3 linked regions of the Homo sapiens genome follow. The main gene of each other region encodes a partner of the protein of the gene in region 3 in a complex. Each region holds a gene or a part of one and is shown on either strand. Other genes may lie near its edges. The genes, in order: S1PR2, ADGRD1 and GNA13.

Evidence for each region.
Region 1: the proteins of GNA13 (region 3) and S1PR2 are in contact, whole or in part, in a cryo-EM structure (PDB 7T6B), measured with the Homo sapiens proteins. Residues at the interface, in NP_006563.2 of Homo sapiens: Arg47, Val216, Phe359, Lys363, Asp364, Ile366, Leu367, His368, Asp369, Asn370, Leu371, Gln373, Leu374, Met375, Leu376, Gln377; in NP_004221.3 of Homo sapiens: Ser66, Met68, Tyr69, Leu72, Arg130, Ala133, Ile134, Lys136, Val137, Lys138, Leu139, Tyr140, Tyr209, Ile212, Val216, Ser219, Gln227, Thr228, Leu231, Leu232, Val235, Tyr288.
Region 2: the proteins of GNA13 (region 3) and ADGRD1 are in contact, whole or in part, in a cryo-EM structure (PDB 9V0U), measured with the Homo sapiens proteins. Residues at the interface, in NP_006563.2 of Homo sapiens: Val49, Val216, Phe218, Phe359, Val362, Lys363, Asp364, Ile366, Leu367, His368, Asn370, Leu371, Gln373, Leu374, Met375; in NP_942122.2 of Homo sapiens: Asn599, Arg601, Leu657, Met660, Val661, Ile662, Val664, Phe665, Ser667, Val737, Ile738, Ile741, Ala761, Val764, Asn810.

The regions. Positions count from the first base shown.
Region 1 is NC_000019.10:10,228,281-10,236,062, forward strand, and holds the start of S1PR2 (sphingosine 1-phosphate receptor 2), read right to left. Parts: upstream 3,052-7,782; 5' UTR 2,924-3,051; intron 2,206-2,923; exon of another isoform or gene 2,133-2,205; intron 1-2,132. UniProt on the Homo sapiens protein: Receptor for the lysosphingolipid sphingosine 1-phosphate (S1P). S1P is a bioactive lysophospholipid that elicits diverse physiological effects on most types of cells and tissues.
Region 2 is NC_000012.12:130,984,871-130,991,974, reverse strand, and holds part of ADGRD1 (adhesion G-protein coupled receptor D1 isoform 1 precursor), read right to left. Parts: intron 4,881-7,104; coding exon 4,626-4,880; intron 1,350-4,625; exon of another isoform or gene 962-1,349; coding exon 897-961; exon of another isoform or gene 838-896; intron 1-837. UniProt on the Homo sapiens protein: Adhesion G-protein coupled receptor (aGPCR) for androgen hormone 5alpha-dihydrotestosterone (5alpha-DHT), also named 17beta-hydroxy-5alpha-androstan-3-one, the most potent hormone among androgens. Also activated by methenolone drug.
Region 3 is NC_000017.11:65,046,637-65,053,740, forward strand, and holds part of GNA13 (guanine nucleotide-binding protein subunit alpha-13), read right to left. Parts: intron 7,093-7,104; coding exon 6,866-7,092; intron 1-6,865. UniProt on the Homo sapiens protein: Guanine nucleotide-binding proteins (G proteins) are involved as modulators or transducers in various transmembrane signaling systems.

The sequences.
Region 1 (7,782 bases), on a different chromosome or scaffold from region 3:
CCAGCCTGGGTGACAGAGCGAGACTGTCTCAAAACAAAACAAAACAAAACAAAACAAAATGAAATGTGTTCAGCCCTTGCACCCCAGGGACTAACTAAGCAGTCTGTCTTTTTCCCTGAGAGGAAGACTGGGGGTGCTGCACTCTCACCTTCTGCAGCCCGGGGAGGCTAAGGCATTCACAGAGGGAGAAGCAGCTCTCCTAGAGAAGGGGAAACTGAGGCCCACATTCTATCCAAGACTCATCTTAACCACTAGGACTTTACTGAGGCAAGCACTTGGGCGGTTGACGCCTCCCAGAAAGAGGAAGCAGGGCACTGAGGTTGGAGCTGGCAGAAGAGTCACCCCCTAGGTGGATGGCGTGGCCTAGCCCATGTCCCCTCCCTGTGTAAGGTTACCAGGTTTTGAGAAGGACACAGAGCCTGTCTCCCGGTCACCTTCACCAAGTCTGCCCTGACTCCCTCTCAGAAGCTCAGAAAGAGGCCACTGGGCTCACATAGAATGTCCAGGCCTGAAATGGAACAGGAGGGACAAGTGATGGGGTTTGGAAGGAAGGGAAGAGAGATAGACTCAGACGACTGTTTGTCTGGAGATTAGGAGAGGGGAAGGATGGAGGAAGCCTCAGTGGCTTCCAAGGTCCTCTCCACCCACTCCCAGTTCCAGAAAGGCAGGCCCTGTGGTTACAGTTCCCCCTGGTCACCCATGGAGCCCGTGGTAGCCACCCTACCTTTTGGTTTCTCTGTGGTTGTCAGGACCCCCTACCCTGCCATTCTCTACCAAGCAGCCAGGGGGAGCTTTTAAACTTGTAACTCCATGTCACTCCCCAACTCCAAATTCTTCCATGGCTCCCTATAGCCCAAGTAGGATGGCCCCTGCCGATGAAGCCTCCTCCCACTCTTCCCCCAGGGCCATTCCACTCCAACCACACTAAACCTCCTCCATGCTACCCCTACCCCTACCTCCAAGCCTTTACCCCTGCTGTTCTTCTTGGGGCACACTCTTTTTCTCAAAAAAAAAATTTTTTTTTTTTGAGACAGAGTCTCACTCTGTTGCCCAGGCTAGAGTGCAGTGGTGTGATCTCGGCTCACCACAACCTCTGCCTCCTGAGTTCAAGCGATTCTCCTGCCTCAGCCTCCTGAGTAGCTGGGATTATAGGTGCCTACCACCACACCTGGCTAATTTTTGTATTTTTAGTAGAGATGGGGTTTCACCATGTTGGCCAGGCTGGTCTGGAACTCCTGACTTCAGGTGATTCACCTGCCTAAGCCTAGGAAAGTGCTGGGATTACAGGCGTGAGCCACCACGCCTGGCCTTTCCTCAAATCTTTGAATGACTGTCTCCCCATCTTTCAGAAAGGCAGGCCCTGTGGTTACAGTTCCCCCTGGTCACCCATGGAGCCCGTGGTAGCCACCCTACCTTATAGAAAGTGACCTTTCTATTTAAAGGTCACTTCCTCAGAGGGGACTCCCCTGACCCCCAGTCTACAATAGCAGCCATCTCCAAGCCTTTTCTAATCACAGAATCTCGTTTTATTATCTGCACAGCGCTTGCCACTATGGGAAACTATCATGATATCTTTCCTTTTCTGTCTGGCTTCCACCTAGACAGTCAATGCCTAAGGCCAGGGAGCAAGTCAGTTATCAGCCCCTACAGGGATGCCTGGCACAAATAAAACACTCAGAAAACGTGTGGAATGGGCAAATGAATGAATGAATGAATGAACCAATGAACAAAGGAGACCCTAGTGGGTTCCCAAGGGTGGAAACTCCTAAGCTCAGCCCAGACCCAAACAGCAACAAAGGAGCCTGGAGACACCTCTGGTCCGCGGGCAGCGCCCCCATCGCCCACCATCAACCAGGCAAAGCCCAGCGTGTCTCCATGGAGATGGCAGCAGGACCCGACCCCGTGCTGGCCCGCACTCTCGGCCTCCTTATCTGGTTTAGGAATGCGCGGTATCCACGCTCGCTCGCGCGGGAGCCACGCCTCCTCTCCCCCCCGCCCCCGAGACCGCCACACGCGCGGGGCCCCCACGTCTCCAAGCGGCACTGGAAGGATTCCTCTCCGTCCCGCCAGGGGTCCCGCCTCGAGATTCTGGGAAGACTGGGGGTGGGGGACCAGATCGCAGCAGCAGCTGCACCGCGAGTTCCGCGCCTGGCCGTGTCGCCCCACGAGGGGGACTGTGGGCTCAGCGCGTGGGGCCCGGAGCATCTGACAAGGACAGAGACAGAGGAGGGGGTGGAAATCCCCGGGTGAGTCAACCCGTGCCTGAGAAGGGGGCGAGTTCCGACGCTCCGCCCGGCTCGGGGCCACGCGAGGTCCGCGCCACGCGCGCCTTCACCCACGACCCATCCCTGAGCCGGAGTTGAAAGAGGAGGCGTCTGAGCCACGCAGTCACTTTCTCTTTCCTTACAAAACAAAGCCACGCCCCCCGCCGGGGGACCGGAGGAGGCAAACAACTTGGGGAAACCGAGGCAGAAAGCCCGACGTCCGACCGCCCTCCCCGTGGGTGCCGCCCCTTGGCTTGGAGGCTCCACGGCGCGCACATCCTTTTGCCCTCGCTCAGCCGGAGTCAGCCAGGAGGGGTGTTGCCCCCCCCCAAACACACTCCCCAAGACCCCGGTCCCCGAGCACGGCGTCCTGCCTCCCAAAGACTCCAGTCGAAAGCGCTCGGATTCAGCCTTCTCCCCGGCGCCAACTTCCTGCCGCTGAGAAAGGCGGGGAGCACAGTCTGCGGGTTCGCGGCCGAGGCAGTGGGGGCCGCCCGGATTCTTGGAGAGGGCGCACTGTGACCACCCGCTCCGTGCAGCAGGAACCCAGGCGGCGCGTGCGCGCCCCAGCCCCCCGATTGGGGCCCCTCAGCTCGGATCCCGAGACCTCAGGGGACCAGGCCCGCCTTTTCTGCCTCCTTGTCGCCACGCGCGCTCACCTGGCTAGGCCGGCCCGGCTCCCGGCCCTGGCCGGAGGGGCCTTGGCGTCTGCGTCCCCAGGGCGGCCGCGGCTGGGGCTGGGGTTGCCAGCCGGGCTCGGCTAAGTCCCGGGGCTGGGACGAGGGACAGAGGGGGGGGCGGAGAGCCGCCGCCTCTGCCCCCCGCTCGCCCCGCCCTCCTCTCCTCCCCTTTCCGGCGGCGGCTGCAATGAATTCCAGATGTGACCGGCCGGCTGGCCGGGGCGCACGCGGGGGCCGACAGGAGCTGCACGGAGGGCCCTTTGTCCGCCCCCCCCACCCGATCTCTCACTCTGCCCCTCCCAGCCCCCACCCGTGAGAACCGGCCGGCGCGAAACGTCACGCAGCCTGGTGACGTCACAGTACTCCTGGCCAGGTGGCCTCAACCTGAAACAACTGTCTTCAACCCCAGGTTACCTCTGGGCTTACCCCTGGGACCCTGGACTTGGAAGAAAACACGAGGTCACATTTATTGACTCAACAAAGAGCCTTGGAAGTACCTACTAGGTGTCAACGCAGCAAATAGGCATTAAGTGCCTACTGTGTGTCCACCCAACAAATAAATTCCTACTAAGTGCGATGTCCTGTCCCAAAGACAAAATTGATCTCTTTTTTTTTTTCTTTTTTTGAGACATGGTCTTGCTCTGTCATCCAGGCCAGAGTGTGGTGGCTCAATCATAGCTCACGGGAGCCTCAGCCTCCTGCCTCAGCCTCCAGAGTAGCTGGGACTACAGGTGCGCCATCATGCCTGGCTAATTTTTTGCAGTTTTTTGTAGAGATGGGGTCTCGCTGTGTTGCCCAGGCTGGTCTTGAACTGCTGCATTCAAGCAATCCTACTGCCTCAGCCTCCCAAAGTGCTGGAATGACAGGCGTGAGCCACTGTGCCTGACCAGTCTCTCCCTTGATAGGACCTCCAGAATTCAGGTGCTGCCCTGTTTCCCTTGGGGGACTGGGGACACTCCACACTCTTTCCTGCCTCTGTAGATCACTGTCCCCTCTGGCGGGGCCCAGTTTGTGCCTGCCTTCCAGCGTCGGGCCCAGTCTTCTATCCAGATTTCCAATTTTCACTAATTCCTGGGCATTTCTGTGTGCCTGCCTGCGGAAATGATGGACACTACACCTTCATCGAATGATGTGTGTGTGTGTGTGTGTGTGTGTGTGTGTGTGTGTGTGTGTAACCAGCAGTTCGACAACAGGATAGGAAAGCCCCTCATTCCAGCAACAAAATTTTTTTGTTTGAGACAGAGTCTTCCTTTATCTCCCAGGCTGGGGTGCAGTGGTGCCATCTCAGCTCACTGCAACCTCTGCCTCCCAGGTTCAAGCTATTCCTGTGCCTCAGCTTCACAAGTAGCTGGAAATACAGGCGCGTGCCACCACGCCTGGCTGATTTTTTTGTATTTTTAGTAAAGACAGGGTTTCACCATGTTGGCCAGGCTGGTCTCGAACTCGTGACCTCAAGTGATCCGCCTGCCTCGGCCTCCCCAAGTGCTGGGATTACAAATGTAAACCACAGCACCTGGCAACAAATATTTTTTATGCACCTACTGGGCACAGCAGTGAACAACAACAACAGCAACAAAAAGGAAAAACTCCTTGACCAGATGGATTTTTTTTTTTTTTTGAGACAGAGTCTAGCTCTGTCGCCAGGCTGGAATGTAGTGGCACTATCTCGGCTCACTGCAACCTCTGCCTCCCGGGTTCAAGCGATTCTTCTGCCTCAGCCTCCTGAGTAGCTGGGATTACAGGCATGCGCCACCATGCCCAGCTAATTTTTGTAGTTTTAGTAGAGATGGAGGTTTCACCATGTTGGCCAGGATGGTTTCGATCTCCTGACCTCATGATCTGCCCGCCTTGGCCTCCCAAAGTGCTGGGATTACAGGCATGAACAACCGTGCCTGGCCAACCCAGTGGATCTTATGTTCAGGTGGGAAATATGGCTTTTTATGAGGGTACCATTTGTGAAAATGTAGACATTATATGTTATAAACATAATCTGGCCAGGCACGGTGGCTCACGACTGTAATCCCAACAGTTTGGGAAGCCAAGGTGGGTGGATTGCTTGACCCTAGGAGTTCTAGATTAGCCTGGGCAACATGGTGTAACTCCATCTCTACAAAAAATATAAAAATTGGCTGGGCATGGTGGCTCACGCCTGTAATCCCAGCACTCTAGGACTCCAAGGTGGGTGGATCACTTGAGGTCAGGAGTTCGAGACCAGTCTGGCCAATATGGCAAAACCCTTTCTTTACTAAAAATACAAAAAATTAGCCGGGCGTGGTGGCGGGCGCCTGTAATCCCAGCTACTCGGGAGGCTGAGTTAGGAGAATCGCTTGAACCCGGGGAGGCGGGCGTTGCAGTGAGCCAACATGGTGCTATTGGACTTCAGCCTGGGCAACAGAGCAAGACTCCGTCTCAAAAAATAAAATAAAAATAAAGAGGCTGGGTGCAATGGCTCACACCTGTAACCCCAGCACTTTGGGAGGCAAAGGCAGGTGGATCACCTGAGGTCAGGAGTTCAAGACCAGGCTGGCCAACATGGCGAACCCCATCTGTACTAAAAGTACAAAAATTAGCCGGGAATGGTAGTGTGTGCCTGGAGTCCCAGCTACTCGGGAGGCTAAGGCAGGAGAATTGCTTGAACCCTGGAGGTAGAGGTTCCAGTGAGCCGAGATCATGCCATTGCACTCCAGCCTGGGTGACACAGCAATACTCCATTTTAAATAAATAAATAAATAAAACTAAATAAATAAATGGAGTAGTCTTGTGTGTACTGATGGGAAATGGTCTTCAACATATTAAGTTGAAAAAGTACAGTGTAGACCAGTATGCATTGCATTTCTGGGTGTATTTATAAGAACTATATAAATACACACACATTTGCCTGTGACACACAGTCTGTCTCTGGGAGAAGGCACCAGACCCTAGTCACAACAGTTACTCTTAGGGAGAGGAACCAGGGGGCAGGGAAACGAGGTAAGAAGAAACAGCTTTTCATGGTATACCCTGGAGGGCTGTTTGAAATCTTTTTTTTTTTTTTTTTTTTTTTTTTGAGACGAGGTATCTCCATATTGGCCAGGCTGGTCTCGAATTCCTGACCTCAGGTGATCCGCCTGCCTCAGCCTCCCAAAGTGCTGGGATTACAGGCATAAGCCACTGCGCCCAGCCTGCTGTTTGAAATCTTTAGCTTCTATTACCAATTCAAAAAAATGTACAAAGAGGTCGAGGCAAGGGGATCACCTGAATTCAGCAGTTCGAGACTAGCCTGACCAATATGGTGAAACCCCATCTCTATTAAAAATACCAAAATTATTGGGAGGCTGAGGCAGGCAGATCACGAGGTCAGGAGTTCAAGACCAGTCTGGCCAACATGGTGAAACCCGGTGTCTATTAAAAATACAAAAATTAGCTGGGCACAGTGGTGCACACCTGTAGTCCCAACTACTTGGGAGGCTGAGGCAGTAGAATCACTTGAACCCAGGAGGCGGAGGTTGCACTGAGCCGAGATCCCGCCACTGCATTCCAGCCTGGGCAACAGAGTGAGACTGCATCTCAAAAAAACAAAAAAACAAACAAAAAAAAACACAAAAAACTAGCCAGGCGTGGTAGCAGGTGCCTGTAGTCACAGCCACTCTGGAGGCTGGGGCAGGAGAACTGCTTGAACCCGGGAGGTGGAGGTTGCAGTGAGCCAAGATCGTGCCACTGCACTCCAGCCTAGGCGACAGAGTGAAACTCCATCTCAAAAAATATATTAAAAATTTTAAAAAATTGGTCATGGATAGTGGCTCATGTCTGTAATCCCAGCACTTTGAGAGGCCAAGGTGGGAAGACCAGTTGTGCCCAGGAGCTTGAGATCAGCCTGCGCAATATAGTGAGACTTCGTCTCTACAAAAGAAAAAACAAAAAATTAAACATTAGCCAAGCATGGTTGTGTGTGCCTGTAGTTCCAGCTACTCATGAGGCTGGGGTGGGAGGATCACTTGAGCCTGAGAGGTGGAGGTTGAAGTTAGCTGAAATCACACTGCTGCACTCCAGCCTAGTTGACAGAGCAAGACACTGTCTGGAAAAAAAAAAAATCAACAGGCCAAGCACGATAACTCACAACTGTAATCCTAGCACTTTGGGAGGCAGAGGCGGGAGGATTGCTTGAGGCCAGGAATCTGAGACCAGCCCAGGCAATATAGTAAGAGCCCATCTCAAAAAAAAAAAAAAAATCAACACGTTAATGCTACATATAGGCATGCAATATATGTGTGTATGTAACACAACATGTAATGCTCTGTGCTAAGCCTGGTGATGCCTAATTGGTTGCTGCCATCCAAAGCTGACAGTCTGATGGAGGAGACAGAGAAGAAACCAGACAATTATTTTTATTTATTTATTTATTTATTTATTTATTTTGAGACAGAGTCTCGCTCTGTCGCCAAGGCTGGAGTGCACTGGCAAGATCTCGGCTCGCTGCAACCTCCACCTCCCAGGTTCAAGCAATTCTCCTGCCTCAGCCTCCCAAGTATCTGGGATTACAGGCGCACACCACCACACCCGGCTAATTTTTGTATTTTCAGTAGAGATGGGGTTTCACCATGTTGGCCAGGCTGGTCTTGAACTCCTGACTTCAGGCGATCCACCTGCCTCAGCCTCCCAAAGTGCTGGGATTATAGGCGTGAGCCACCGTGCCCGGCCGAAACCAGACAATTCTAACACAGGGTGATGGGGCTTTGAAGGGGGGATACAAAGAAAGTCAGAAAGTGACTAGTCAATTCTACACTTTGCCCCTTTTCCTGAGCTCGATTTCAGGGTCTGCTGGGTTCTGGGCCAGATCTTGGGGCGCACTTGGACCTTGG
Region 2 (7,104 bases), on a different chromosome or scaffold from region 3:
TAATTTTTGTATTTTTAGTAGAGACAGGGTTTCACTGTGTTGGCCAGGCTGGTCTCGAGCTCCGGACCTCAAGTGATCCTTCTGCCTCGACCTCCCAAATTGCTGGGATTACAGGCATGAGCAACTGTGCCTGGCTGCTCTTTTTTTTATTTATAGAGATGGGGTTTCACTGTGTTTCCCAGGCTGGACTCGAGCAGTCCTCCTGTCTCAGCTTTCTGAGCAGCTGGGACTACAGGTGCAACCACCACACCCAGCTGGTCAAATGTTTTTATACCATGATAGTAATATAGCTCCTACCATGTATCTGACACTTTTGTGAATATTTTGCTTATATTAACATTTCATCCTCACAACAACCTTACAAAATAAGTCCCCATTTGATGGATGACACTAAGCGCAGAGAGGCTTACTCAAAAATAAGTGGTAGAACTTGGATTTGAACCCAAGCAGATGGGTCAGAGTCTGTGCACTCACTATTATATTAACGTTCTCAAGAAAGGACAGTTCTTTAACTACAAACACTAATTCCAGACAAGAATTTTTCTATATGAATTGAACTTTTCTCTAACATCAAACGAAAAGGGCATAGAGAGAAGCCAAGCAGGGCAGATTCCTCACTCCCCACTCACGGCGCCCACGTCCCATGAATGAGCCCGGTATTTCCTTTTGGGCACCTGAGGTTCCTGGTGGCAGGAGTTGAGAGTTTTCCCTTCAGTCACTCTTAGCACCAAGAATTAGTACTGCAGTTGGCTTCCCCTCCATTTGTTATTTCTTCCCAGACAATGTACTGCCGATAACAGAGAGCCCAGACACCTAATGGAATTTTCTCTCTCCCAGCAAACAGCCCAAGCAGAAGAACATCAGCAAGGGGGACCAAGGAAGATGTGTCTGCTCACCACGGGGCTTGCTGTGGATGTCATGAAGAGGCTTGGCAGCGTTGAAGACAATAAAGCATGCTTTCCTGGAAGAAACAATGCTGGATTAAGGACTAAAACATGGTCACTTTTTTCACCACGAGGAAGACCTGTCCTTGTTAAAAATGTACTGGCTTCAGACACATGGAAGAGAGTCTGAGAATGTTTTGAGTAGGAATGTTGCTGGAGATAAATTATGGGCTAAGAAATCAGCTGACTGAGTCGACCGTATAGATTTTCCCAGGTCACATTACTTTTCCATTTGTATTCTCAATCGCTTTTGAACACCCTTCATGCAAGTCAGCATATCAAAAGATGATTTTATACAAGGATTACCGATTTCAAATAAATAAAGAACCAAAAGAAATAGATTTCAATTGCATCCAGACTGGTTGGAGATAAAATGAGGAGTGCTACAACTCGCTGGGCCAGCACAGACAGGAGCCCTGGGAGCGCTCTCCTCTGAGATCGATGAAGTGAGAATAGGCCCCAGTAAAGCAGTGGAGAAAACTGTCTTCCTGAGCCCCCTCTAGCCCAAGGATTCCAGCTATTCTTTGCACTCAGCCCCCATGGGGTTAATGATGAATTATTACAAACAATGAAGACATTTAAGGCTGAAGACTAAGCCATGATTTGCTGTTCTCTGCCTGTTCACCCCCAACTATTTCTAATCCCACTATTTCCTGATGAGAACACACACTTAACCAGATATTCTACTTCATTTTTGGAAAATCTCTTGAAGTTGCTTTGGATGAGCTGAGGAAATGACATCATCACCCCTTGCTGGCTGCAGGAGTGACTGAGCCCTTGGGTTTGGGTGGGGTTGGGCTGCTGGTGAACGCAGAAGGTGTGGCGCTGCCGAGAGAACTGGACCCCAGAACCGCTCTGTTCTCCAAGTCAGAGTGACATTCACTCCTCAGGTGCCAATGAGTTACAGAGGAGTCATGTCAAACTCACATTTAACTCGTGTGTGTCCACAAAGCAGAGTGAGGGATAGTGAAAATCGGTCCAGCGATCCTGCCAACGCTTGCAAGCGATGACCATGGAGACTGGGGTGAAAATGAGAATCTGCCAGGTCCTCAGTCGGTCCCAGTTCCCACGTGTTGAGTGTGTTTCCAGTGCCCAAAGGTACATGCTTTCCGATTACACGTATCTGAACATAACCTTCTTCCTCCTCTACAGAAAGAGCTGCTGTCCATTCCAGTGGTAAGGGAGAGGGGACACCTGGCCAGGGTGACAGACGGTCAGCACTGTGCCTTTGTATCAGGAAAGGCCACCACACCTGGACGGACCGGTCAGCAAATGGTGCCAGCTCTGGCTCATGAGATTAGAGGAGGTGTCACCTCTGCCCAGGTCACTCAGAAAAAAGCCCCCTCTGGGCACCTACAGCCCCAGCACAGCTTCAAATGCAGACAGGTCTTCATGTAAAGAAAGACTTCTACCTACTTGTGTGGCCATGTCCCCACCGAGGCCCGGCCTGGCTGGGAGCAGACTGGATTTCAGTTCCAGTTGTCACTCTGCATGGCTGCCCTGAACTCGGCTGTGTCAGACTCACTGAGCAGTGGTACACGGGGCCCCACACAGGCCTTCCAGGGACTTCAAGAGCCATTCTCCTATACATGCTTTACGTCGTATGCCTTGTCTTCAGACCAGGTCACCAGGTGCAATGGGATTCTGGTCGATCCAGTTCTGGTTCAGTTCTGGTTCTGGCGATGAGGGTTTGCTCTGACAAGAACAAGAACCAGAAACAAGGGCACCTCTTTCCAGTGTTACTAAAACAAGTAAACTGTCAGGAGGGCAGGCTTTGTTTGAAGCTTTTCATAACATAAATACAAGTGATATCTTGGTTTCAAAGTGACAACTCTAAACCCTAGGCAATAAAATGCAGTAGATTGGTCCATTTTTTTCTTCTGAAGGATGCTATCATTTGCCCTCTGTCAGTGCTAGGAGAGGGAATGCATTCCGTTTTCCTGGGTGGAAGCTGGAAGATGTAAATGTCGAAGGCTGTAGTGGACACAGGCTGTTTTGCCTGCACAGCATCTGTTCCTTCTGAGACCAGCATACCTGATTGTCCCCTGGGAGTCCCCTCTCCTCCACATGTTCTGGACAAGGCTGACCTCACTGTCATTTCAGGGGGGCTGGGGATGGGGGACTATGACAGAGACCTAAGCCAGTCAGCATATTCTGCACTCCCAGACACAGAAAATGACTCATGGAAGGTGCATGGATAAATGTGAGCCAATGTGAGTCCTGCCCAGCCCCAGCATGGGAAGTGATAAGAGAAAGAAGCTCCCTCTTTTCCACAGAGGCTGCTGAGGGCAGAGGATGCAACACTAGAAGCATGACAGCCACCTTGGCACCAGGAGGAGGCTAACAAAAGAGGGCAGGGTCAAACGCAGAGATTCCCACTGACATCATGTGAGCACCTGGACCAAACCAGTTCTGAAGCAGTTTCCCCTAGAGCTTCCATTGCAAGAGATGAAAAAGAAACACATGGCTTTCTTGGCTAAAGTTATCTTGAATTGGGTTTTCTGTCATGCAATCAATAGGGTCCTAACAACTGAGGGACTCAACGTCAGAAGCGGAACGAGGGCAGGCAGCGTCTGGAACTCAGGCCTTTCTCTCCTGGTCCTGACATCCGCTGTGCTGGGTCCCAATGAAGCAGCAGCCACATGTTTGTGAGTGCCTACATGGGGTCTGTCATTTTTTAGCAGATTATTTTATGTGGAAATAAAGAAACCCATTGGGGAAAAAATGGTGCATTCACTTGTGGGCAGCATGAAAATGGAATTGTAGGGGAAAGATGAATATTAATTTTAAAAACAGCTAAGAACCACTGGATTCTTGCCATATGCCAGGCATTGTGCTAATGGCCTTTATTATCAACACCTCCCCCAGAAAGGGAGTATTTTTATCCATTTAACAGAGCAAAAAAAAAATCTGAGAGATTAAGACAAAAAGGTTATACGTTACACATTTCCATTTATGTGGAATCTCCAAAATAGGTAAAGACAGAAAGTAGATTCGTGGTTGCCAGAGTCTGGGGGAGGGGAAGGCGGGGAGTGACTGTACTCACCGGGTGCGGGGTTTCCTTTTGGGGGGATGAAAATGTTTCCAAGCCAGGTAGAGGTGGCAGCTGCATAACACCGTGAATGTGCCAAGTGTACTGACTTGTTCATTTTTAAATGGTTATGTTTATGATATATGAATTTGACCTCAGTTTTTAAAAATGACTTCCCAAAGTCTCACGGCTCATTATGGCACAATGAATATTTGAACCCCAGTCCACCTACCCACAGGCCCCTGCCCCGAACAACTGCCCTGTGCTGAATAGGAAGAGGTATCTTCGGGGCTTTCCAAGGGCCCATCCCCTGGGAGGCACACGGCTAACATTTGTTGATCAAAAACACTAATGGATCTGGAATACTTGCTCTCCAAAGCCTTCTATAATCGTCCATCACATATACCTTGAAACCCCGTGATGATCAACAGAACAATATTCATCTCAAAGCATCTCTAGTAAATTATTAACTCCTCTATCTCAGGGAACAGGTGTTCTAACACACAACTGTGTTTATAAGGTTCATTAGGACACATCTCACGCCTGCAGTGCTGATAGCTGCAACGGGAGAGTGGGGAGAAAGGAGGCCGATACCAGGGTGACCCTGGGAACAGACAGCGGATCTGCCCCAGCCCTTCACACTCACTGACCAATGGCAGCAGTGAAGTACATGGCGATCTCATCCGGAGTCAGAGCCCGCTCCCAGATGATGAACTCATCGAAAGCACCGTTCTCATAACACTTGGCCTGGTCCTGCTCAGACCCTATCACGAGGTTGACGTTGGACTCTCCATAGTCACGAGACACTTTTCCACTCGGATCAGAGGTGCTCAGGGTCCCGTTGACGTAGACTTTCAGGCCCTCCTTGGATTTCCATGTAAATAGGACATGAGTCCAATAGGGGCCTGGAAAAGAGTGAAGATCGCCATTCTGAGTACTGTGGGAATGAGCTCCCCATGCACAGGTTTTTCCTGTTTGTAGGCACATCCTTCTTTCTTAAGGTGATCAATCACTGTTAACTGTGGTGCGTCCTAATACAAGGTATAACACAGACCTGACTTTCCCCAGTCCTTTGGAGCACAGGAAGGATGTTATCTTTTTGTCCTTATGCCCTAAATTCCAGAAGCAGTTCAAGGAGACTCCTTGTTATTTTAACATAGTAGTTACAAATTCAAATGCCCACAAGCAAGTGTGATTAAAATATTTGAAAAATGGCAGGGCACAAGTGCCAACCAATCAGACCATAAGCTCAGTTAAGAAAAAATGGTCAGGAGCGAGACAAGGATGTCCCCTTTTACCACTCCTTTTTAACATTGTACTGAAAGTCCTAACTAATGCAATAAGGCAAAAAAGGAAAAAAAAGGAAATAAGAATATAAATATTGGGAAGGATGCAATAAAACTATATTTATTCACAGATGATGTGATTGTCTATGTAGAAAATCCAAAAGAATCAACAACAAAGCTGAAACTAATGAGTGAGCATAGCAAGATTACAGGCTACAAGGTTAATATACAAGTCAATTGCTCCCCATCTGCCAGCAACGAACAAGTAGAATTTACAATTAAAAAACACATTACCATTGTCATTGGTGCCAAAAAAGGAAAAAGAAATACATATATTATAACAATACATTTATAAGCTATATATAAAGAAAACTATATAACTCTGATGAAAGAAATTAAACAAGAACTAAATAAATGGAGAGATATTCCATATTCATGGACAGAAAGACTCAATGTTGTGAAGATGTCAGTTCTTCCCAAATTGATCTATATATTCAACACAATCCCAATAAAAATCTCATCAAGTTATTTTGTGGATATTGATAAACTATGGAGAAGGAAGAGAGCCAGAATAGCCAATACAATATTGAAGGAGAAAAACAACATTGGAGGAACAACACTACCCAATTTCCAGACTTACTATAAAAAGTTACAGTAGTCAAGACAGTGTGGCATTGGAAAAAAACAGATGAATAGATCTGTGGGACAGAATAAACAGCCCAGAGATAGACCAATAAAAATACAGTCAACCAATCTTTGACAAAGGAGAAAAGGCAGTACAATGAACAAACAGAACCATTTGTTGCAACAAATGGTGCTGCAACAACTGAATATCCACGTTCCAAAAAATAAAAAGAATCTTGGCCGGACGCAGTGGCTCACGCCTGTAACCTCAGCACTTTGGGAGGCCGAGGCAGGTGGATCACCTGAAGTCAGGAGTTCGAGACCAGCCTAGCCAACATGGCAAAACCCCGTCTCCACAAAAATACAAAAAATTAGCTGGGCGTGGTGGCAGGTGTCTGTAATCCCAGCTACTCAGGAGGCTGAGGCAGGAAGAATTGCTTGAACCCGGGAGGTGGAGGTTGCAGTGAGCCGAGATCGCCCCATTGCACTCCAGCCTGGACAACAAGAGCCAAACTCCATCTCAAAAAAAACAAAAAAAAAATCTTAAACCTGTCATAAAAATTAATTCAAAATGGACTATAGGTCTAATATAAAATGCAAAACTATAAAACCCTTAGAAGATAATATAGGAAAAACATCTAGATGACCTTGGGTTTAGTGATGACTTATTAGATCCAACACCAAAGGCACAATCCATGAAAGAAATAATTGACAAGCTGGACTTCCTTACAACTAAAAATGTCTGCTCTGTGAAAGACACTGTCAAGAGAATGAGAAGACAAGTCACGGATGGGGAGAAAATATTTGGAAAAGACATGATAAAGGACTATTATCCAAAATACACCCAAAAACTCTTAAAATTCAACAGTAAGAAAACAAACGACCCGCATTTTGGGAGGCTGAGATGGGAGGATCGCTTGAAGCCAGGAGTTTGAGACCAGCCTGGGCAACCAAGTAAGACCTCACCTGTACCAAAAAAAAAAAAAAACTAGTGAGACATGGTGGCACATGCCGGTAATCCCAGCTACTTGGGCAACTGAGGTAGGAGGATCACCTGAGCCCTGGAGTTAAACGCTGCAGTAAGCTGTGATTGCACCACTGTACTCCAGCCTGGATGACAGATCCTGTCAGAAAGAAAAAGAAAGAAAGAGAGAAAGAGAGAAGAGAGGAGAGAGAGAGTGAGAGAGAGAGAGAAGAGAAGAAAGAAGGAAGGAAAGAA
Region 3 (7,104 bases):
GCAGGGAACATTCAATCCAAGGAGTCCTTTGGCCATTATGCTTTTCTTTAAAGTAAGCTCACAAACCTTTTTCCTGGGTTAGGTCCACGCTCTAGGTAAAGAGTTCTGAAACTAAAGTCTACTTTTCATAACAAAACTATTTACTTGTTCCATCTCTTAGTTGTTTAATAAACATTTTCAGAGAATCATAAATTATTGTGCCCCTAGCTTTGTTTAGCAATAAAAGGTAATATAGAAAGCAGCACAGTATTTTCCAATTCCGGAAGCTTTAGCACCAAGAACCCAGACATCCTACAGCCAGTCAAGTTTTCACCCAAAAAAATGCGAACATGAAAATTTCAACATAATAGAATACAAGTGATACCACCTATGTGTGCATGCACACACACTTCACAAAGTTGTATTAAAACTATAAGTGTAAACTTAAAGGAACTGACGGAAATTTTAAAAAAGAAATTAATTAAAAAGAAAAAAACTTCATTTTTAACGTAAATAAACATAAAGCTCTGGGTTTACAAGATTTGGATAAAATGTAACCACTCTGACATCTGATCAATTTCATCAAAAGGAAATTAAACTCAACTTTAAAATCTCTACTATCTCTGGCTGGGTGAGGTGGCTCACTACTGTAATCCCAGCACTTTAGGAGGCTGAAGCAGGAGGATCACTTGAGCCCAGGAGTCCCAAGGTTACAGTGAACTATGATCACACCACTGCACTCCAGCCTGTGTAACAGAGTGAGACTCTGTCTCTAAAAAATATTAATAAAGTAAGATAAAAACCTCTACTATCTCTAATGTTATATATAATCTTTATTTTAGATGGGATGAAATATTTAACACTAATCCTAGAATCAAAAGATAACCAATAGGTTTTTAGCAACTCAAAGTCCTTGCTTGACTATACTTATAGAGAAAATGGACCAATCATCCAAAAGAAACATAGTATTTTACAACTGAAAGTAGCAATTCTTTAATATTTAAAGCAAATCCAAATTAGCATTAATTAATAAATGACTCTGATTCTTTTTTTTTTTTAAGAGGGAGGGGGCTGTCCTCACTATGTTGCCCACATTGGACTTGAACTCTTGAGGTCAAGCAATCCTCCTGTCTCCCCAGAAGCTGGGACTACAGGAGCTTCAAATGACTCTTGATTGTATTATATTTCCAATACATGCTGCAGTGCAAATAAATAAATAAAAAAAATTAGCTGAAACTGAAGTTTCTAGAATACTTAGTTGGACCTCCCCTTTTTACAGGCCAATCATGGAGCTAAATGGTTACTTTGTTACACAGATTGAGGGAGTAAATCTCTGTGTTAATGAATACACTATCTTATCGGCTTCAAGAAGAGTAACCTCAAGCACAAAAAGAAAAGAATTAAGTCTAACTGAAGGTACCATGATTAGCAAAAACACTTTGGTTTCAGGAATTGCAAAGACAGACTGGCCATTACAGGAAGTTGTATTAATGCTGACAATGTTAAACTGTTTACAGAAAGTAGGAAGCTGTGGGATGTTCCTCCCACTGTCACACACACTGTCCTGTCCTACGTAACAAGTGTTGCCTTATTTCTCAATAAGTGAATATAAATTAAACAAAAAAAAATAGTTGGAAATGACTCCTAGCCATTTTGTCAGTTTTCATCCATATCTCCAATTGTATCATCCAGCCAACCCCTGACTCCCATCTCTTTATTCATCTGAGTTACCAAATTATCTAGCTATTGTCACATAAGAAGGTTTTCTAAAGACAGGGTAACTCAAAAGTGCAGTGGCAGGCTATGTTGAATGTACAGCCAGAGTAGAGTATTTCAAATATTTAATTCAGTACTAAAACAGGCCACTTCTTACAATCTATTATCCTCAGTATGCTAATTTATAATAACTAGAAAGGTACCTTAAGTTATAACGAGAATGTGAATCTTGTATTTTTCTTTTCCACAGTAAGCTATTTAGCTGACCCATGATGGAACTAACCAAAAAAGGAAATGTTTACCTTTGGGAACTTAGAAAGAAAAACATTCATGTTTACACCCAAAGTTATTACTAACAAATGAGTAGTCTGCTAAAAACCTAAGCTGTGTTATCAACACCCTATCCCTTGTCCCGAAAATTGATTAAAGGGCAGTTGTTCATCTTAGGCAAAATGTTAAGTCATGTAGGGCCTTAAAACCTGTCAGTTTTTAATGTGCATTAATAAGTTTAATAATCAAATCATTAGTTGAAACGAAAAGGTTAATTTTAATTTTAGTTATTTTATCTGCTAACCTCTATTTCTTCTGATGTTTACCTTTCCTATCCAAAATTCAAAAATATGCTGCTAAACATAACAAAACACATTTCAACCCCCCCAAATAAAAATTATAATTACACAAGAACTGTCCACTTCCTAGAAAATTAGGAAACTATTATAGAAATAATCCATATTTCCCAGAAGGAACTTAATGTAGAATTAAATTATATTACATATTTTTTAATTTTTATTTTTTTGAGACAGGGTCTCACTCTGACGTTCAAGCTGGAGTGCAGTGGCATGATCTCCACTCACTGCAACCTCCACCTCCTGAGTTCAAGCGATTCTCGTGCCTCAGTCTCCTGAGTAGCCAGGACTACAGGTACATGTCACCATGCCTGGCTAATTTTTGGTTTTGGTTTTGGTTTTTGGTAGAGATGGGGTTTCACCATGTCAGCCAGGCTGGTTTCCAACTCCTGACCTCAAGTGATCTGCCTGCCTCAGCCTCCCAAAGAGCTGGGATTACAGGTATTTTATTTTTTTAGAACATCTTTGTAATTAAGAATGTCTGAAAAACGAGGAAATAAAAGTGTCAGGCACTATGCTAGTAGGAGAGAAAAAGACAAACTAGGCATACCAAAGGACTTCTACATGACTGACAGCCACACATGAAAGCTGTGACTCTAACACACATAATGGGTACTGTGAGGAGTGACAGGAGTAAGCATGCTAGGGAAAGCAAAGGACACGGAGATCTCCATTCTAGCCAAGAAGACTGGAGATGCTTCAAATAAAGAGACACAGCCCCTAAGGCACTGTTCCTGGGGAAAGGGAGGGGGCATGGAGCAAATTCATCCAAACCACCTATGGCTATTTGCTGAAAACACAGATCACTGGGTCCCATCCCAGAATCCAGAATCAGATCCTCAGGTATAAAGTCTGAGCATCTGCTTGTTTGTTTTAACAAGCATTCCAGTCCATGGGGTCCATGGGCCACATTTAGTGTGATTATCACTACATTAAGTGAAGGGTAAGACCTAGTAACAGATAGGGTAAAGAATAATTCTGGCAGAGGGACTACGCATGATGAGAGCTATAGAAGCAAAAAATTAGGGTATGTGGGAATCAAGAGATTACAGAGTATGTCCAGTGGCCTAATGAAATATATTGCTGGAATCACAGGTAAGCTAGCTAGAGTCTTTACTCCCACAAAAAAGCTGAGCTCTGTTCTGAAGACAATGGTGAGCCACCAAAGCTTTCTGAGCAAACCAATGCTGTGTTTGAACAAGACTGCCTTGGAGTCCAAGCAAGAGGTAGCAGAACACAAAATAGAGGAAAGGAGGGAATGAATGCAAGAGACGTTACAGAGGTAGAAAAATCAGAACTTGGGGAGCTGCTGCATGTAGATGAGTAGATGGAATTGATGATGACTTTGAGGAAAATTTTAAGTAAGCCAAGTGCCTTCTCAGTGCCTGACACTATGCCAAGCACCACAGCACATCCAAGAGTTTAAGAGTCATTAAGTCAACATAATAATGGAGCATCTCTATGTGTCAGGTGCTATTAACAATGCTGAAGCCACGCACAGTGGTTCATGCCTATAATCCCAACATTTTGGGAAGCCAAGGCAGGAGGACTGCTTGAGGTCAGGAGTCCAAGACCAGCACTGGCAACATAGCAAGACTCCGTCTCTACAAAAATTTTTTTTTAAATTAGCTGGGTGTGACGGCACACACCTGTAGTCCTAGCTACTTGAGAGACTGAAGCTGGAGAATCACTTGAGCCCAGGAGTTGAGTCTACAGTGAGCTATGATCACAACAGGGCACTCCAGCCTGGGCAACAGTGAGACCTTCTCTTAAAAAACAAAAACAAAAAAACAAAAAACAATGCTGAGCGTAGACTCAGGAAAAAAGAATCTCTGTCCTCCAGAAGTTTAAAATTAGGTCTTGCTCTGTTCCTCTTTTCTTGTCTCTACTTTTCATCATGGAAAAAAGTATTTCTGGAACTTATCTCTCCTCATCTTTGAGGACTTCTTTGCTCCTTAAGGATCAACTGGCTCAAGTCAACAACAAGCAGGTCCTCATCCTGAGTGGTTTTACCTATTCGTTCTTAATCACAAAGATATACTTAGGGATGCTTTCTCAACAATGAGGACATGACAGTCCTGATGTGAGACAGTTAGACGTCAGCTTCCAAATTAAAAAACTGTCCATGAAACACAACTTTAATTAAATGGACTTAGGGCAAATACGGAACTTCCCCACAGAGAACTTTCAGGTATGCAGTTCTTTATTTATTCATTTAATCCATATGCACTGTATGCTTATTACAGATGAATGTTTCTTCTCTGACCTGGAAGGATGAATAGAGCCTGACAAAATTGAGTTGAAAGTGTGTGGTTTGTTGAGAAAATGAACTAAGAAGAAAGGAGAATAAGCAGCACTTAAAAACAGGAGGTAGATGGCCAGGCACAGTGGCTCATGCCTGTAATCCCAGCACTTTGGGAGGGCAAGGCAGGCAGATCACCTGAGGTCAGGAGTTAGAGACCAGCTTGACCAACATGGAGAAACACTGTCTCTACTAAAAATACAAAATTAGCCAGGTGTGGTGGCGCATGCCTGTAATCTCAGCTACTTGGGAGGCTGAGGCAGGAGAATCGCCTGAACCCAGGAGGCGGAGGTGAGCCAAGATCGCGCCACTGCACTCCAGCCTGGGCAACAAGAACAAAACTCTCAAAAAAATGCAAAAAAACAAAAAACAGGAGGTAGAGTGATGGGCGATGGAAAGGGGTATATGGAAGAACTCATGCAAGCAAATCTACCAAAAATAAAGTAATAAACATTGATCAAGGGACAAAACTAACCAGAAATCTGGGAATTGGATGGAGGTCATTTGTCAAGTTAAATTCATCATTTTCAACATGCAATACTGGCAGCTACGTAATTTTAACAATAATGTGAGACAGTCCCTGCCTTTCAGAAATAAACACATTACTTGAAAAGACAAGATACAAACATGATAGAAGAGAACTATACAAGACGGTAAATAATCAAATGCTAGTTGAATGACAGATATAAAAGCCATAATTCAGATATAGTCAAAATTAAGGTGTCAGTTTTATAAAAAGCTATCGTGAACACTTTCCTGGAACTTTTAAAAGGCAAGACTGCTTCTAAGTATAAATAATAACAGCAAGGACTGCTGGTTGTACATCGCTTTGCAGCCACACCCATTAATGTGGATTAATGTTGGTGACATCATCAAACAACTTCCTAAGCAGCTTATTTATTTTTTTTTTGGAGATGGAGTTCTGCTCTTGTTGCCCAGGCTGGAGTGCAGTGGCACGAACTCGGCTTACCGCAGCCTCCGCTTCCAGAGTTCAAGCGAGTCTCCTGCCTCAGCCTCCTGAGTAGCTGGGATTACAGGTGCCTGCCACCACACCTGGCTAATTTTTGTATTTTTAGAAGAGACGGTGTTTCACCGTGTTGGCCAGGCTGGTTTCAAACTTCTGACATCAGGTGATCCACCCGCCTCAGACTCCCAAAGTGCTGGGATTACAGGCATGAGCCACCGTGCCCAGCCAGCAGTTTTACTTTTAACTGTCACTTCATTTTAATCATATTAGAGTAAAACACTTCAGATCTGAACTACCTCCAAATTGCACACAGTCTAGATTTCTATCACTGCTGGAATCTTTCTGATCTTTGGCAAATAAAACCCAATCACAGCATTCACAGTTAAATTACAAAACACTTGATTAAAAATTTGTTTCAACTGTATTCTGTATCTTTAACCTGGATTGGATACTTTTATTCCAAACCTGTCTTCAATGCTGTGTAACAGCTACAAAGCATTTTATGGGTAGTCTCGTTAAAGAAAAAAGGGGAAAAATGCCTGGCACAATGCCAGCAATTTGGGAGGTCAAAGTGGGCACATTACCTGAGGTCAGGAGTTCAAGATCAGCCTGGCCAACATGGCGAAACTGCCTCTACTAAAAAGACAAAAATTAGCTAGGTGTGGTGGCACGCGCCTATAGACCCAGCTACACAGGAGGCTGAGGCAGGAGAGTTGCTTGAACCCTGGGGGCAGAGGTTGCAGTGGGCCAAGATCACACCACTGCACTCCAGCCTGGGCAACAGAGACTCCGTCTCAAAACAAACCCCCCAAAAACAAAAAAACAAATTTCTGAGGCTATAATTTTGGATAGATACATTAAATTATGGAAGTCAGTGAAAAAAGTGTGCTAAAATCAGATACAGGTTGAGTGTCCCTTATCCGAATGCCTGGGACCAGAAGTGTTTTGGATTTTGAATTTTTTCAGATTTTTGAAATATCTGCATACATATGAGATATGCTGGGAATGGGACTCAAGTCTAAACTAGAAATTCATTTATGTTTCATATATACCTTAAGATATGTAGCCTAAAGGTAATTTTATACACTATTTTTACACGTAGTCATTAGAGACTAGGACACATTAGGTCTGTGCCTTAGCCTTTCAGTCTGTTCCTCCATCTCAAATACTTTTAGATTTGGGAACATTTCGAATTTTCGCATTAGGGATGTGCAACCTGTATTACTAAACATCATTAAAATAAAACCACACGTTTTAAAAGAGCAAATCTCTTACCAGTTGAAATTCTCGACGCCGGTCATAGGCATTCTGTATGCCGCTGTCTGCCCATAATGCTCTTATAGCAGGAAGATATTGTAAGAAAACCCTTGTTTCCACCATTCCTTGGGCTGCCATGGGGGCCCGGGTATCAAACGACATCATCTTATCTCCATGTTGTTGGTTTGAGTTGTCTCCCCAGGGAATATGAAGCTTCTCTCGAGCATCAACCAGCACCCTCATACCTTTGTTTAAAA